Regions from separate parts of the Homo sapiens genome. Here region 1 is linked to region 2. Evidence: fine-mapped expression QTL. Tissue or cell type: whole blood. Region 2 holds a variant in brackets; the other region holds the start of a gene. All regions are shown on one strand. Distances are from middle to middle.

The links. PIP is the estimated chance that this variant, and not a neighbour inherited with it, causes the effect.
Region 1: it holds the start of RIC3, and the variant in region 2 is fine-mapped to the expression of RIC3 in whole blood (TOPMed, PIP above 0.99). The same link has a PIP of 0.9 or more in aorta, esophagus mucosa, lung, skeletal muscle, spinal cord and tibial nerve.

The regions. Positions count from the first base shown.
Region 1 is chr11:8,164,533-8,172,712 of GRCh38, forward strand. It overlaps RIC3 (RIC3 acetylcholine receptor chaperone), which reads right to left and starts at 4,493. Exons shown (of 6, transcript NM_001206671.4): 1 at 4,334-4,493. The coding sequence starts at 4,457. It overlaps RIC3-DT (RIC3 divergent transcript), which reads left to right and starts at 4,538. Exons shown (of 5, transcript NR_187234.1): 1 at 4,538-4,657; 2 at 5,353-5,456.
Region 2 is chr11:8,203,256-8,211,435 of GRCh38, forward strand. No RefSeq gene overlaps it. Among named protein-coding and RNA genes, the nearest start is that of RIC3-DT, 38 kb to the left of the region's middle. RefSeq lists an enhancer at 1,244-5,881. The variant C/T (reference allele first, on the strand shown) is at 3,196.

The DNA of each region.
Region 1 (8,180 bases), 39 kb before region 2:
CAGGAGGCCAAGGTGGGAGGATCACTTGAGGCCAGAAGTTCAAGACCAGCCTGGGAAATATAGTGAGAGCCTCATTTCTGCCAAAAAATTTAAAAATTAGCCAGCTATGGTGGCACACACCTGTAGTCCTAGTTACCTGGGAGGGTAAGGTGGGAGAATCACTTGAGCCCAGGAGTTTGGGGCTACAGTGAGCAATGATGGCACCACTGTATTCCAGCCTGTGCACCAGAGTGAGACCCTGTCTCTCTCAAAAAAAAAAAAAAAAAAAAAAAAAAGACAAGTAATCTGACTTTTAAAGAGGGTTAAAAGGACCTGAATAGACATTTCTCCAAAACAAGATATACAAATAGACAAAGAGTGAATAAACACACAAAAAATGCTCAATGTCATTAGTCATCAGGGAAATGCAAATAAAATCACAATGAGATACCATTTCATTCCTACTAGGATGGCTATCATCAAGAAGACAGATAACAAACAAGTATTGACAAGAAACCAGAAGCCCTCTTACACTGCTGGTGGTCATGTAAAATGGTACAGCTGCTTTGGAAAATGGTCTGGCAGTTCCTCAAAAGGTTAAACATGTAATAACCATACAACCTAGAAATTCCACGCTTAGTTCCAGCCACACTGGAATGCTCACATTTTCCAAATGTATACACTCAAGAGAAATGAAAACATTAAGTCTACACAAAAATTTGTACACAGATATCAGTAGCAACATTATTCATAATAGCTAAAAGGCAAAAATTCAATGTCCATCAATTGATTAATGAATAAATGAAATGTGGTATATCCACACAATGAAATATTATTCAGCCATAAAAAAAGTACTGCTACATGCTACAACATGGATGAACCTTGAAAACATTATGCTAGTTAAAAGACGTCAGTCACAAAAGATCAGATATTATATGATTTCATTTATACCAAATGTCCAGAACAGGCAAATCTATAGAGACATAAAGTAGATGAGTGGTTGCCTAGGGCTGGAGGTGGGCTGGGGGATTTGTGGAGTAATAGCTAAAAAGTACAGGGTTTCTTTGGGGGCTGAAGAAATATTCTAAAATTGGTTGTAGTGATGGTTGTACAACTCTGAATATGCTGAAACCCAATAAATTGTACACTTTAAGTGGGTGAATTGTATGATATATAAATTAGATCTCAAGAAAGCTGTTATCAAAAAAAAAAAAGACTTCCCTCCTCTATGTTCTATGAAACCTGTTTTTTGGGGTTTTTTTTTTGTTTTGTTTTGTTTTTTTTTTTGGCAGAGTCTCACTGTGTTGCCCAGGCTGCAGTGCAGTTACACAATCACACCTCACTGTAGCCTTGACCTCCAAACTTCAAACGATCCTCCCACCTCAGCCTACAGAGTAGCTGGGGCTACAGGTGCACACCACCATGCCCAGCTAATTGAAAAAAAACAAACTTATTTTGTAGAGATGGGGGTCTTGTTATGTGGCCCAAGCTGGTCTCGAACTCCCAGGCTCAAGCAATCCTTCCACCACAGCCTTTCAAAATGCTGGGATTACAGGCATGAGCTGTCACACCTGGTTTATGAAACCCTTCTTAAGTCCCAATAACACTGACCATTGCATACATGTCTCCATTGTTCCCTGCGCAGACTTGAGTAACTGTGACTGACACTCTTGCATTTATCTGCTAACATGTCTGTTTTGCATTTATCTGTTGACATGTCTACTTTCCTTTACTAAACTGTGGCCGCCTCAAAGCATGGAGTTCGCTCATTTTTTCTTGGAATACATAGTGTCTATACACTATGTGCACAGTATGTGATATGGTACATCATAAATATTTGTTAAAAGACTATCTTAAAGGCTTTCATGTGGAAAGGGAACTGTGCTTGTTTCATGCACATCAATGGGCAAAAATGGAAGACATAACAACATGTATTTTTAAGAATTTTCAAATACTCAGGGTTATTCCTTTCTTCAAAGCAGGGATTTCTGGGTTCTGAGAATTCTCTGAATTGATACTGAAATTCTGAGTACAATAAGAGTATGTACCTTTTTCTAGAGAGAACATACAGTTTTAGGCTGAGTGCAGTTGCTCAAGCCTGTAATCCCAGCACTTTGGAAGGCTGAGGCAGAAGGATCACTTGAACCCACGAGTTCGACACCAGCCTGGACAATACAATGAGACCCCCATCTCAACCAAAAACAAAAAAAATTTTTTTTAATTAGCCAGGCATGGTGGCATGTGCCTGTAGTCCCAGTTACTTGGGAGGCTGAGGTGGGAGGATCAGTTGAGCCCTAGAAGTAGAGGCTGCAGTGAGCTGTGATCATGACTCTGCACTCCAGCCTGGGTGACAGAGTGAGACCCAGGGAAAGGGAAAGAGAAAGGGAAAGGGGGCCAGGAAGAGAGGAAAGGAGGGAGGGAGGGACAGAGGGAGGAAGGAGAGAGAAAGAAAGAAAATACATAGCTTTTATAAGATTCTCAATGGTGTATGTAACCCCAAAATGGTTAAGATTTTTTGCTGCAAGTTTCAGTTACTGGAATGTACCATTCAAGGTAAGTTTTTTCCTAGGTTATACTACTTCAGTAGCTTCTCCTTGTCAAAAACAGAATTTACAGTATTGGTAGCTTAATAATCTTAAAGTATTTATTGACTGCCCATTATATGCCAGGTACTGAAGAAACAGTGGTAAACAAGACAAAGTCCCTACCCTTGCAAACTTACATTCTAGAAGGTGAAGACAAAAAAACAAACAAGTAAACACTTAAGAATATTCCATATCATATAGTGATGCCTATCATGAAGAATATAAAACATGATAAAATAGAGAATGATGGGAGAAAAGAGTTATTTTAGTTAGTGTCATCAGGGGAAGTCTCTCTGAGGAGGTTTCATTTGAGCAGAAATTTGAATGATGAGAAGGGCACTGAGGGAAAAGCACAGCACTTCAGGAATAAAGAGAACTGAAGGTACAAAGATCCTAACATGAGAACACTGAATACCAACACTTGAGTTCTCAAGGGAACAACCCATGTCTAATCTCCACTCTACATTTTCTACAACGTTCAGAAGAGTGTCTCCCACTCACAGTCAATAGTACTTGTTCAAGATAATTCACCATAATGGAAAGTAAAAAAAAAAAAAAAAAAGTTTTCGAAGAATCTTCACTGTTCAGGATCATCATGAATTGACTCTTCTTCAAAGTAGACAATATCATTAGACAAAGCAGGTAAAAATCTTTGGGATTATTGCAATAAGACAGAAAGGAAAAAAAAAGAACAAATACGCAAAGATGTTTTAGAAGTCCGTCCCAAGTGGATAGTCTTACAAGCATAAAGATTATCAGGCAAATTCTGTAAACAGAATTATGTGTTCAACCTGCCCTCCACCCCTAAAGCTTGGTGCTTTGCATTTATAGTGTGTATGATGCTCAAGAGAATGGAACTACAGTCAATGTGCATAAAGCAGACGGAAGTGGATTACAGTTCAAAAGGAGCTGTCCAGCAATCAACAGTTTAAACATTACTGGAAGTGTTCAGACACCGTAAAATCATGTCTCAAAGATATTACAAGGATAATTTACAGGAGAAAGTTACCAGTAGAACTTCATGACCTATAGAAAACTGTTCTGGTTCCTTCTCCCAGCCTTCAGCACCGTGCCTTTACACTCATTCTGTAAAAGGCCCCAGTGCAGCTAAGAGGATGAATTTTTAAACACCACATACATCATGCCAACAACGAAGAATTAACAGATAAATACTGTTTCAATAAGGGGAACGTAATAATTTGTTCATAACCACCTCAGTAACTGAAACTGGGGTTATTAAAATCTTCAAGATATATTTTTAAAGGCACAAGAAGAGCCTGAAGCAGTGAGCGCCCAGCACCAAGTTGAAAAAACATAACGACTTAAGGTTTGCTGTACCAATTCCATTTGCCTTGATTTCGTACCAAGCGGCGCGTCAGAAAGTACACGGAAAACCTAAAGAGGGAAACCCAACTGGGAACCCTTGACTCAAAGCACGTGAACAAATGGTGACGAGATGAGTTAAGCCAGCGGGGTAAGAGAGAAGGGACTGCGCCTAAACGGGAGTACGCAAGGCCACCTAGAGGATGCACAGACCTGCATGCATACGTTCCTGACCCTTCCAGCAGCAGAACCATCTGGGCCGCCACCCGCTGATAACAACGGAACCGTGGGCATTGGCCCTTCAACGCCGTCTCGCCCGCCCTCTCCAGTCAGTTTGGTGGATATTTCGGTGAAGGCTGCAGACTCTCAGAGTCACCCCTCCCTCAAGCAGCGTTCTCCGTACTCTTCGGCGCCGGGAAGCTCAGAGGGAGCTGGCCTGCTCTTACCTTCAGGTGTCGGCGGCGGCTCCTGCCGCTTCCCGCGGGACAGGAAGGCCTTGGGCAGCAGCAGCGACAGAGCCAGGACAAGCCCAGAAGCCAGAGCGACTCTCTGCACTGTGGAGTACGCCATGACTGCTCACGGTGGTCGCAGGTGCAGACGCCAGCCGGAACCGGAACCGGAACCGGAGCACGGGCTGCCGCTCCCGACCGAACCGCGGGCGGCGCGGACGGCGTCGCGCGAGGGACAAGGTGCGCGAGGCGCACGCATCTTCACCTCCACTGTCGGGAGTTGACCTGCTCCTCCCGCGTGGTTACCCGTCGCTGTAAATGGTACCCTCGCCTTCCCGTTCATACTAACTAAAAACTCCTCCCTCACTCCCCATGTTCATCTTTTACTGAGTCCTGTGCATTCTACCGCCTACACATCCGGCGGTCGTGCCCGGATCTCTATCCCCACTTACCACCACTGCCCCCCACCCACCCGTAGATCACAACATCCAGTTTCTCCTCATCTCCATGATCTCGCTGTCTTCCAGCTTCCACTCATGCCCCTCGCATTCATTATCCGTCTGCAGCCACAGGTGATAATGCTAAAACACAAGACTAATTCTCTTTCTCTCCAGCTTAAACCTTTTAACTCTCCATTATCTTCAGAACAATAGTTAAACTCCTTTCTATAACCTCAACGCCCTGCATGATCTGGTCTTACCAATGCTCCTTCCAAACTGGATGATTTGCTATTTCTTTAGCATATTGCTTGTCTTCAGGGAAGCTTTGCTTGTCCTGTTCCCACTGCCTGGAAAATTCCTGACACCATCTCCAGTTGTCAAAAACTTCTCTGAAGAACAGCTTAAAAACACTGCTCTCTCGAAACGTTTTCAGTCAGCCTCTCCTTTCTCTACAATCCCACCGTTCTTTGTTACTCTCTTCATTCGTTCATTTAACATTATTTTAGTTTTTACTATGTATTAGACCCTCAACTTGGCACTACAGGGTCTGATGAATAAAATGGATTCCCTTTGTAGGACAGATAATTATCCAAACAAAAAAAATGCAGGAAATATTCTGGATCCCCGAGCAGTCTTCTCAACTGGTACGAGGAAAAGTCAAGAAAAGCCCCTTTGAGAAGGTGAAATTGAGTTAGCTGTTGAAAAATGAGTAACTTATAGGCAGACAGGTGGGAGGGGTTAGAAAGGTATTCCGGAAAAAGGAGGCCAAAAAAATAAAGGCAAATCTGGAAGCTTCCTGGTGTGTTCAGAAAGCTATTGGTAATTCATTTTGGCAGGGCCATAGAGTAGTGACAGGACACGAAGTGCACAAATATAAGCAGGAGCTACATTGTGAAAAGCTTAGGTAGAACTTCCAGTTAAACATGACAGATGTAACATATGCATTTATCTTTGCTTTCCTGGGACAGTGCCCAAAAAGGAAAATAAAGAAATAAAGTATATAAACTACAAGACTAAATGCAATGATAGAAAACATGACAGCAGATGAGAAATGTCAATTTTGTAAGACGCACACAACACTGTCCAATAGACACATAATACCAGCCACATATGTAATTTAAATTTTTCCAGTAGCCACATTTAAAAAGTAAAAATAAGTAAAATTTATTTTAATAATATTTTAAACCAAGATAGCAAAAATATTTCAAATTTTATCAGCACGATAGTGTGGCTCGTTGGCGCCCACAGTAGACAGTGCAGGTGTAGAGCATAAAAAGTTAAATGCCTGTGGACTGAAAGCCTGTAAGGAGTGAACTAATTTGCCCCTCAGAACCCATGCTCTTAAGAATTGGAGGTACTGGGTTCCTTTAAAGCCAAGGGTGCAGAGTGGGTCTGAATGAAGGATTGGCTGGAAATCTGATTAAAAAGCAGTTGAGACTGGGCACAGTGGCTCACACCTATAATCCCAGGGCTTTGGGAGGCCAAGGCTGGAGGATGGCTTGAGGCCAAGAGTTCAAGGCCAGCCTGGGCAACATAGGGAGAGCCCTAATCTCTACCAAAAAAATGTAAAAAATTAACCAGGCATGGTGGTGTGCACCTGTAGTCCCAACTACTCAGGAAGCTGAGGTGGGAAGATCACTTGAGCCCAAGAGTTTGAGGCTGCAGTGAGCTATGATTGTGTGAAACCACAATTAATTATGATATATAAGATGATAATAATGCCTGAATGAAGCCAGTAGGGGCACCCACTCCAGCCAGGGTGACAGAGTGAGACCCTGTCTCTAAAAAAAAATTGTTTGATTTTTTTAAAGCAATGGATATCTTCTGAATCTCTTTCCTTGATTCATGCAGCCAGATGGGTGCCACTGCTGGCTTCACTCGGGCATTATTATCATTGATGTTATTAACATCACTAAAAGTTAGAGTACTAATTATGTTTTAGGCATCTTACATATCATAATTATTCCTCCCAATAACTTCAAGAGGTAAGCAATATTATTATATACCCATTTCACAGGTAAGAAAATGGAGCCCCAGAAAACATAATTTACTTGCCAACAATTACACAGTATAAACTGGATGCTATGATTTGAACACAGGCATGCTTACTCAAGAATTTGCCCTCTTAGCTACCAGGTTTACTGTCTGGGGAGGTTTAGTCAGAAAACCTCTGGACTCCTGGACTATAGATGCAGCTTAGGGAGGAGGTGACTAATGGGATGTGGTCTCTAAGAAATACAGAGGGGTCTGGAATGACCACACTCCCCCCCGCCCTCCGCCACCAAATTCTAGCTTGGGTAAATGGTAGACATTAATTCTATATAACATGATTTTAAGAATAGAAGAATCAGGTTTGTGAGAAAGATGAAGAGTTCAGATTTTGACTAGCTGAATTTGAAGTTCCATGAAATATCCAAGTAGAAATATCCAGTTGGATATATGGGCCTGGAGCTCAGAAGAGATGTTTGGGCTAGAAACAATAGGAAATCATCAGCCCATCTATAGTAAATGAAGTCTAGGAGAAGATGGCATTAGTGAGAGTGCTCATGTGAAGTTGTAAGAAGCCACAATGGAAACCTAGGTCACAACATTATGTTGAAGTTCCCATGTATGAGGACAGAAATGAGGTGGGAAATAGTGATCCAAGTGTTAAAATCTTTAATGAATGTGGAGTTACTACAAGGTTGGAAGGTGACAGGAACAGAAGAAGTAATGGGCAGCCAGATGACATGCTCTTCTAAGGAGCTGTGTTTTTTTTTAATTGTTTAAAAATTTTTATTTATTTATTTATTTATTTATTTATTTTTGAGATGGAGTCTTGCTCTGTTGCCCAGGCTGGAGTGCAGTGGTGCAATCTCGGCTCACTACAAGCTCCGCCTCCTGGCTTCACGCCATTCTCCTGCCTCAGCCTCCCAAGTAGCAGGGACCACAGGTGCCCGCCACCACGCCCGGCTAATTTTTTTGTTGTATTTTTAGTAGAGATGGGGTTTCACTATGTTAGCCAGGATGGTCTCGATCCTTGTTATGCACCCACCTCAGCCTCCCAAAGTGCTGGGATTACAGGCATGAGCCACAGCGCCTGGCCAGGAGCTATGGTTTTTAAAGGAAGAAGAGGAAGAAGCAATTTGGAAGCAGCAAGGGGAAACAAGTTGGGCATCTATTCTATTCCCAGGCTTTAAGCTGTGGGAAGAAAAATAGCTCTTACTTTGGGAGATCTGCAAGGGAAACAGAACCCAGAGGCAACAGCCTAGTTTTCATTAGAGGAAGACAGGCCGGGCGCAGTGGCTTATGTCTGTAATCCCAGCACTTTGGGAGGCCAAGGGGGGCGGATCACGAGGTCAAGAAATCAAGACCATCCTGGCCAACATGCTGAAACCCACCTCTACTAAAAATACAAAAATTAG
Region 2 (8,180 bases):
CTCCCATCCTGGCAATTGTTGTCATAGGCACAGGAAGTCTCTATGGTTGTCAAAGTAGAGTCTCAGATAATTGAACCAATGATTAGAGCTCTCCCTCACTCTCACACAAACCAACCGGCTCTCTCGAGTTCTCTTTCTGCCTCTCTCCTAAGTGTGTCTCTGAGTCTCTCAATGTCTCTCTCTCCATGTCCACGTTCTGTTGTTGCCTTTCACTCCCTCCCACCAATAGCTGGCTGTGGAAGCAACTCCAAGCATGGGCCAGCACCCAGTGGCCTCCTGAAACATGACCAGAGCAGATTTGATCTAGGAAAGGAAGACTAGGGTATCTTGCTCTTGCACCAGCTTGTGCAGGGCAATATCCATGATCTGGGATCACACATGCACCCCTCAGAGAGTTGGGGTCAGGACTCTAGCCTGGACAAGAGTACCTTTGGCCTCCGTTTCCAGGATTTGGTGAGACGGGCCAAACCCATGTTGTCCAAAGGAGCACACTTGCTCAGGGAGGGATCAAGGAGCCCCATGAGAGCCAAAGTGACATGCGTGAACATATGTGGTTGGGGAGGAAGGGCGTATTTTTGGTGTCTGGGCAGCTTTAGAAGCTAACTGCTCACGTGGTAGGTGAGGGCCTGGGCTAACCCATGGGTTCTTAGGTCAATGGTTTGCTTACTTAACAGAAGGCTATTTTCCTCATTAGAGTCTCGTGAACACATCAATATGGAAGTTATTTAACCTAGAAGAGTGATGGATAATGGTTGCTTGCCTTTGATATTCTTCAACAGCCTTTTGATACACTGAGAGCCCCGAGGAGGGCACAGATGAAAGGGCCATTTGGTTGGGACTGCAGCATCAGCTCTGCTCCTCCCCATGCTGATTGCTGGTGACTCCGACAGTCCGCACCAGTCAATCTACTTGGCTGAGCTTCCCCTGAGGCCCTGGCAGTTCTAGAAGTGCCTGGTAATCCTCCCATGCAGATGCGGGTGCACTGAAAACCCCTTGTTGCTAGAGAAGTAAATGACCCAGGAGGAACATCACATGGGGCCCTTGCTGCTGATTCACAATGGAGACGAAGGAACTGATCACATTAGCTGGGCAACTTGGGATGTGGCCCAGGAGGCAGGAAGAGCTTCAGTAGCTCTAGCCCTTCACTCTGGTCTCACTCAGAATCACATCCATCTGGTCCTTGCCTGGAACCCCAGACCTGATAACTTCATCCTAACTTGCTCTGGGGTTCAAGGCCCTGCCCAGTCATCTGCCGAGGACAACATAATCCTAAGCTTAGAGCCATCCGTTGCTTGGACCAACTTTGCCTCACTAACCCCCCATGGCCCCTGTGGCTGAGGTCCTGTCACCTGCTGATACCCAGAGTTCCCTGTACCTGGCCCTGTTCCAGGAAGAGCATGGCTCTTGAATTCCTCTCACCAAGCTCCACTGTGTTGGATGAGGGGCGCTGAGGCTGGGTGCATTATGCCTGGTGTTTGCCCCTTACCTTACGGCCTCCTTGTTCCTATTGCTTGACTGGCTCCTATTCAACACCTGAGAGAAGGTGGGGTGCAGTCAGGATGGGGGACTCTCCCTACCCACCTCATCTAAGCTAACTCCAAGTCCAGATCCCACCAAAGCTCTCCTGCCTCAGTGAAGCGGTCCTGCTCATTCATATGCAGAGGCATGACCAAGCTGGTCCCCAAAGGCTTGCGGCTGGAACATGTGGGGCTGGGTTGGGAGAAGGCAGAGCCACGGGATTCTCAGCTCTACCTGAGAGGGCAGGCCAGGAAGGGTGCAGTGATAAAGAGTGCAGTGAAGTGAGAGAAGACAGGGCAGGACGAGAATGTAGGGGACCGAAGAAACACTCAGAAAACCTGACCCCATGATTTGAGCCCTAGTAAGACAATAAAGTCCCCTCCACCTTCTTTTTCCCTAACTTCCTTTTCTTTCTTCTCCTCCCTTCTCCTTCCATTTGCTAAGGGGATGTGCTGAGACTCAGCTTTGCTATGGGTCTCACGGTATCTAGGGGCTAGCCTGGGAGCCCACCTCCCATGTGGAACGTTGTTTCTATCAAACATGCATCTGGAAGGCTCACAACTGTAATCCCAACACTTTGGGAAGCCAAGGCAAGAGGATCACTTGAGGCCAGGGTTTGAAATAAGCCTGGGTAACATAGTGAGACCCCATCTCTACAAAAAAATTCTTTTTAAATTAGCCAGACATAGTGGCATGCACCTGTAGTCCCAGCTACTTGGGAGGCTAAGGGGAGGATCACTTGAGCCCAGGAATTTAAGGCTGCAGTGAGCTATGATCACACCACTGCACTCCAGCCTAGGTGACAGAGCAAGACACTGATTCAGAAAAATAGAAAATGCATTCTAACTCCCTGTGGATTTCTGGAGCCCAAGTCCCGTATAGCCAGAACTTGTCTACACTGTTTGACATGCGCAACCTTGTTCCACCCTGGGCAGGACCCCCATGGGCACGACCATGGCAGCCGGTATCCCTGTCTCTTTGCTGGCCAGTTCTAGTGTTCCCAGAGTACCTTGTGCTCAGGGTGCGGCTGAGGGAAAATGACCCTACACCGCAGGACCCAGGAATTTGTATATTTAATTCTCCCTCTCCCAGGTGGGAGCCTGTGTTAAGACACAGCCAAGGGTGGGAACCCTGATCTCGATAACTGCATCTCAAACTTCAGCGTGCCCTTATCAGAGTCATCTAGGGCAATTAATAAAACATAGACTCCTAGACCCCATTTCCAGAGACTCAGATTCAGGAGGTCTGAAGTGGGCCTGAGCATTTGTGTTTCTAACAAGCTCGCAGATGCTGGATGCTGCAAGTCCATGGACCACACTTAGAGTAACAAGGGTCTGATGCAACCTCCCATTTTCCTGAGACAAAGACCGCACTGAGAGCAAAGCAGGGCAGGGGATACCAGCGGCCCACCCAAACGCCCAAGTCTTTGAGGGCTCAGGTTCCCACTTTAGGAGGACAACAAAACTTACGCCAAACCGAAGCGGGCCTTGTTCCTGCATGTTGGGCCTCTGGCCTGGCCCAGAAGACTGGGCCATCAAGAGTGTTAACCGCTGCCATTGGCTGGTCCTTCACTGACAGCAGAAACTTGGCCAATGGCAATCAATCAGGGGGCCCGCGCTGCCTTAAATACCAGCAGAGCAAACAGCCTCAGACAAAGCTGCGCCGTGTATCAATTAC[C/T]GAGAGGCTGCGTGCTCCTCTGGGCGGAGGGAGCCGGAGCGAGCGGCCAGGGCTGCTGCCCCAGCTGATAAGGGCCCGCATTGTTCGGGGACAGCTGGCAGCCCGATAAGGGCCTGCTCGCCCGAGATAATGGCAGTGGGCAGGCGCCTCGCGGCAGTTTAGAATTTCTTGGGTCTCCAAGAAAGGTTCTATTAAGCCCACTGACCCCAATTGAATATTAATTAGCTAATTAACGGATTTATTGTTCCACGCCATTTCTGGAGAGGCCATTTTTTTTCGAGTGCCATTATTTTTGTAAATGATTTTTCGCATTGTTCATAATTGAATCTTTGCAGCTGCCAGCATCTTCTGCATGATTTGGCAAAAAAAAGGAAGCAGAAGCACTTAGGGTTTTTCCCCCCACCCTCCCTCTGAACAAATGTTTTCAGCCCCTCCTGCTAATGCTGGAGCGAGGGGGAAGTAGGGGGGCTGTCTCTGTTTCACGGGTTTGTTTTTTAAGCCGAACTGCAACGTCTGCACTCCTTTTTCCTTCCTTTTGTGGGCAGCTGAGGGCCGAGGCACTCCGTGCTGTCCCCACCAGCCCTTTGTCTGGCCGTCTTCAAAGTACTCAGACTTAGCTTTTCTCAGCCCAAACTTCTTAAAGCATTGTGCTTTCTATTAGGGAATACATAGAGGGAACAAGACCCGAGCTTGTCCCACCTCGAGCTCCCGGTGGAGGGAGGCCAGCCCTGAACTGCCAGGGGAGGAGCTCTAGCCAGCTGGGGAGCACTCCTGGTGGGCTCTGCCTGGGTTCCTGTCCCTATCTATCCCACCCTTGCCTTTCCTAGCTGGAGCCCACCCTGGGTCTGGTGGCTCTGGGGGTACAGAGCCCCCATCCCAGAGCCTCTCCGCTGCTCTTTAATAAGTCTTTGCTCCAAATTCCGCACCAGGGTTGCTTGACTCCCTGGCGCTGGCATCTGCCCACAATAAGTTGAACCAGACGGTCCCACAGGCAAATGGCTGATTGAATCAAACCCATTCCTCTGCAGAGGGTCTAGAAGAGGGAGGGTATGTGTGCTGGGATGGGGCTGGCGTGGGCGGCATAGCAATATCGTCAGGCAGCAATGGGGAGCCCCGTTGGACCTCGTAGACCCTTCTTCAGCATCATTAATGAAGCCAGGGGCAGGCAGAGGCTCCAGGAATATTAGTCAGGGCCCCCCTGTGGGCGGGTCTAAGGAAGGCTCATGCCCAGGACCTGCACCTGGCCGCCGGGGGCTGCAGAACTTTATTGGGATTTTTTATTAAGCTGCCTCTTCCTGCCGTCATCCCTGTCCCTATCCTGCTGTTTGTGCTCAAAAAGAGGAATTCCGAGGGCGTTTGTGAGCAGGGAGATGAGTCAGGAAGGAGTTCTTGAGTCTTCCTCTGTAGGCACTGGCTGGGACCACCCATTTCCTTTCCTCTGGAATAGAATCCAGCAGACAGACAGACTGTCCTGGGAATCTCCTCCAGGTGCAAAAGTTGTCGAAGAAACTATATGAGATAATCCGTATGTTAATTAGCCAGATTTAGTCACTCCACAATGTATATATTCTTCAAAACGTCATGCTGTACATGGTAAATGCATACTTTTTTTCCTGTCAATTAAAGAAAAGTTGTAGAAGGGACCCCAAAAGTCTAAGAACTGAAGGTGGCCCTTAGAGTTGGGGAGGGGAGTCATTCAGCCTCTGAACACCTCCAGGGTGGGAAGCTCACTACCATCAAAGCTTTCATATGGAGAAGGGTCGTCCTTACACAGAGTCTGTATGCTCTTCCCTATACCCCACCCATACAGTCTCCCTCTGCTCATGACACCCATTCAGCTAATAATAGTAACAACCATAATAACACCTAACGTGAAGTGAGGATCTACTACGTGCCAGACGCTGTTCTAGGTACTTTAATGCATTATCCCATGTAGTCTTCCTCATGTCTCTGTGGGATTTTTTTTTTTTTTTTTGAGATGTAGTCTGGCTGTGTCACCCAGGCTGGAGTGTAGTGGCACAATCTTAGCTCACTTGCAAGCAAGCTCTGCCTCCCAGGTTCATGTCATTCTCCTGCCTCAGCCTCATGAGTATCTGGGACTACAGGGGCCCGGCACTATGTCCGGCTTTTCTTTTTTCTTTTTTTTTTTTTTTGTATTTTTAGTAGAGATGGGGTTTCACTGTCTTAGCCAGGATGGTCTCGATCTCCTGACCTTGTGATCTGCCCACCTCCACCTCCCGAAGTGCTGGGATTACAGGCGTGAGCCACCGCGCTCGGCTGGTAGGTAGGATTCTGAGGCAGAGAGATGTGAAGTAAGCTATGCAAGGTCACTGATGAAAGTAACAGAGCCAGACACCAACCCAACGTTGCTGGATACCAGTGCCCCCACATGTGACCTCTCTGCTCCACAGTCTGGAAAGCCATGGCTCTAAGACTGCTCTGCTGCGGGGAAGACAAGCTAAGAGGCTGTAGGTGCTTCTCATCTGACAGGGTCTCCCTTCCCTTTGCTGCCTTGGACCTTCCTCCTGAAGCCCAAAGTCCATAGGCGATCTGGCTGGAAGACAGCCTGTTCCTTTCCATGTTCTAGACACTATACTCTGTTAATGCAGCCTGGGTTGGTGATAAAGTTCTTGGTGAGGGGTTGCACCCCTCTACAGCACCCCCCTTACCCTCCGAGGTTCAGACTTATTGTTTTGAAAAGGAGTCCCCCAAATCACCTTCTCCAGTCCTCAGAATTTTGGCAGAATTTGGTCTGATCCTCCCCAAGCAGGTTCTCCTACACCTCCAGAATCTGCCAGGGACTCATTTGATCCCAGTGAGCTGACAGCTGGAGCCCTCCTCTGGGAGTTACCAAGAGAGGGAGGCCTCAAGTCAGAGGCCGGCGAGGCTGCACAGACCTGGCTCTTCCCTTCTGTGAAGGTGACCCATCAGGACACCAGCACCTCCTGCTGGCCGCCCTGGGGGCTGCAAGCCACCCCTTGGGTATTTGGGAGACATTCCTTCCAGTTTCTTATTTTGCAAAGAGGACTGGGGCTCAGAGACAGGAAGAGAACTGCTCAAGTTCACCCAGTCACACTAAGGGGGCCAGACCATGCCCTGTTCTCCTCTGTCCCCAGGGAAGAGCCAGGTGAGTGTCTGATCAGGGATCCGGGAAGCCAACAGTCATACTTGGCTCAGAGGACTAATGGTATCCCTCTCAGAGCCTGATTCTCTGGAAGAGACACCTACTGGCCTACTGGCCACCCCAGTCAGGCTGCCTGAAGTCCTGCAATCCTTCCATGGCCAAGTCCTGGGAGTCAGTATTGCTTAAACCCCATCCCCTGCCTCTTGGATCTTCCTAACTCAATATACTCAAGACTCTCAACAGGAATCTTTTCATCAGACAAGACAACCCAGGCTCCAGCAAGCAAATTTCTGTCCATCTGGGAATGCCACCACTGACAGGGCTTATGGGACCTGGGCAGGAGTCCCCAGTCCATGGGTCACCACTCACAGGCTCAGCAACCTTGGGCAAGTCACATCTTTATGACCATCAATTCCTTAGCCATCAATTATCTCTCTCTCTCTCTCTCTAGAGAGAGAGAGAGAGAGAGAGATTTCTCTGTATATAGGTCTATATAGAGAGAGAGATCAAATCCTGAATCTTAAAAGAAATCTTGTTACATGTCATATATATATGAAGCTCTCGCTCTGTTGCCCAGGCTGGAGTGCAGTGATACAATCATAACTCAGTGCAGCTTTAAACTCCCAGGCTCAAGCGATCCTCCTGCCTCAGCCTCCAGAGTAGCTGGGACTACAGGAGCACACAACCACACACTTGGTTACTTTTTACGATTTTTTTGCAGAGGCAAATTCTCACTATGTTGCCCAGGCTGATCTCGAACTCCTGAGCTCAACCAATCCTCCTGCTTCAGCCTCCCAAAGTGCTGGGATTACAGGTGTGAGCCACTACACCCAGCCTGAAAAGATATATTATGAACTGGCAGGATAGAGGTTACATTTGGTAACCTGAAAGGGGGCACTGAGAAGAACTTGGGGGATATATTATAAACTGGAATACATTGATGCATATGAACTTTATTTTCTTTATTTCTTCTAAAAAAAAAAAAACGGGATACATGTGCAGAACATGCAGGTTTGTCACACAGGCATACATGTGCCATGATGGTTTGCTGCACCTACTGATGGGTCCGCTAATTTCCCTCCCCTTAACCCCCAACCCCCAACAGGCCTTAGTGTGTATTGTTCCCCTCTCTGTGTCCATGTGTTCTCATTGTTCAACTCCCACTTATGAGTGAGAACAGACGCATGTGAACTTTTAAGACAAAACCTGAATCTTAAAAATAATCTTGTAATATGGCAGACCACACTCCAACACTCTCTGATACCTCTGATCATTGGGACCCTTCAGAGAAAAACTGTGAGACTCACATATGAAATCGCTGGTGCACAATGTCAGGGGGTCCCGATGGGATAACTAATAATAGTAGAATTTTGGGCTCCAGGCAGATGGGTTGGGGGATATTCTGGGGTCTAGGGGAGCCCTGCCAGATCACAGAGAGGCTTCTGTTTTTTCTGGAGGCAGGACCAGCTGCAAGCGTCCAGCTACCAGGGGACTCATGTCTTTTCTAAGAAAAGAGAGTAGGGTGAGTAGCTTCAGGCTTGGTCTAGCAAAGCCCCGTGGCCTTTGGGTTCATTCTTCATTGAACCCAACTGTCTTACACAGGATGACTCAGATTTTACTTCAGGAAAAATGACTTAGCTACACAGAGCTTGAGGAGCAGAGAAAGGTGGATGGAGATGGGGATGGTCAGAGGGAGACAGGGGCAAAAAAGGAGGGGGAGGGAGAGAGAGAATGACAAGGAGGACACAGGGAAAGTCACAGAGGAGAGACAGAGAATATTGCCAGGGAGAGGGCTTTTCAATGGGCAAGGCTGGACATCAAAGCCACCAGCATAGGGCATCAGAGTCCCTTTCATGTGTCA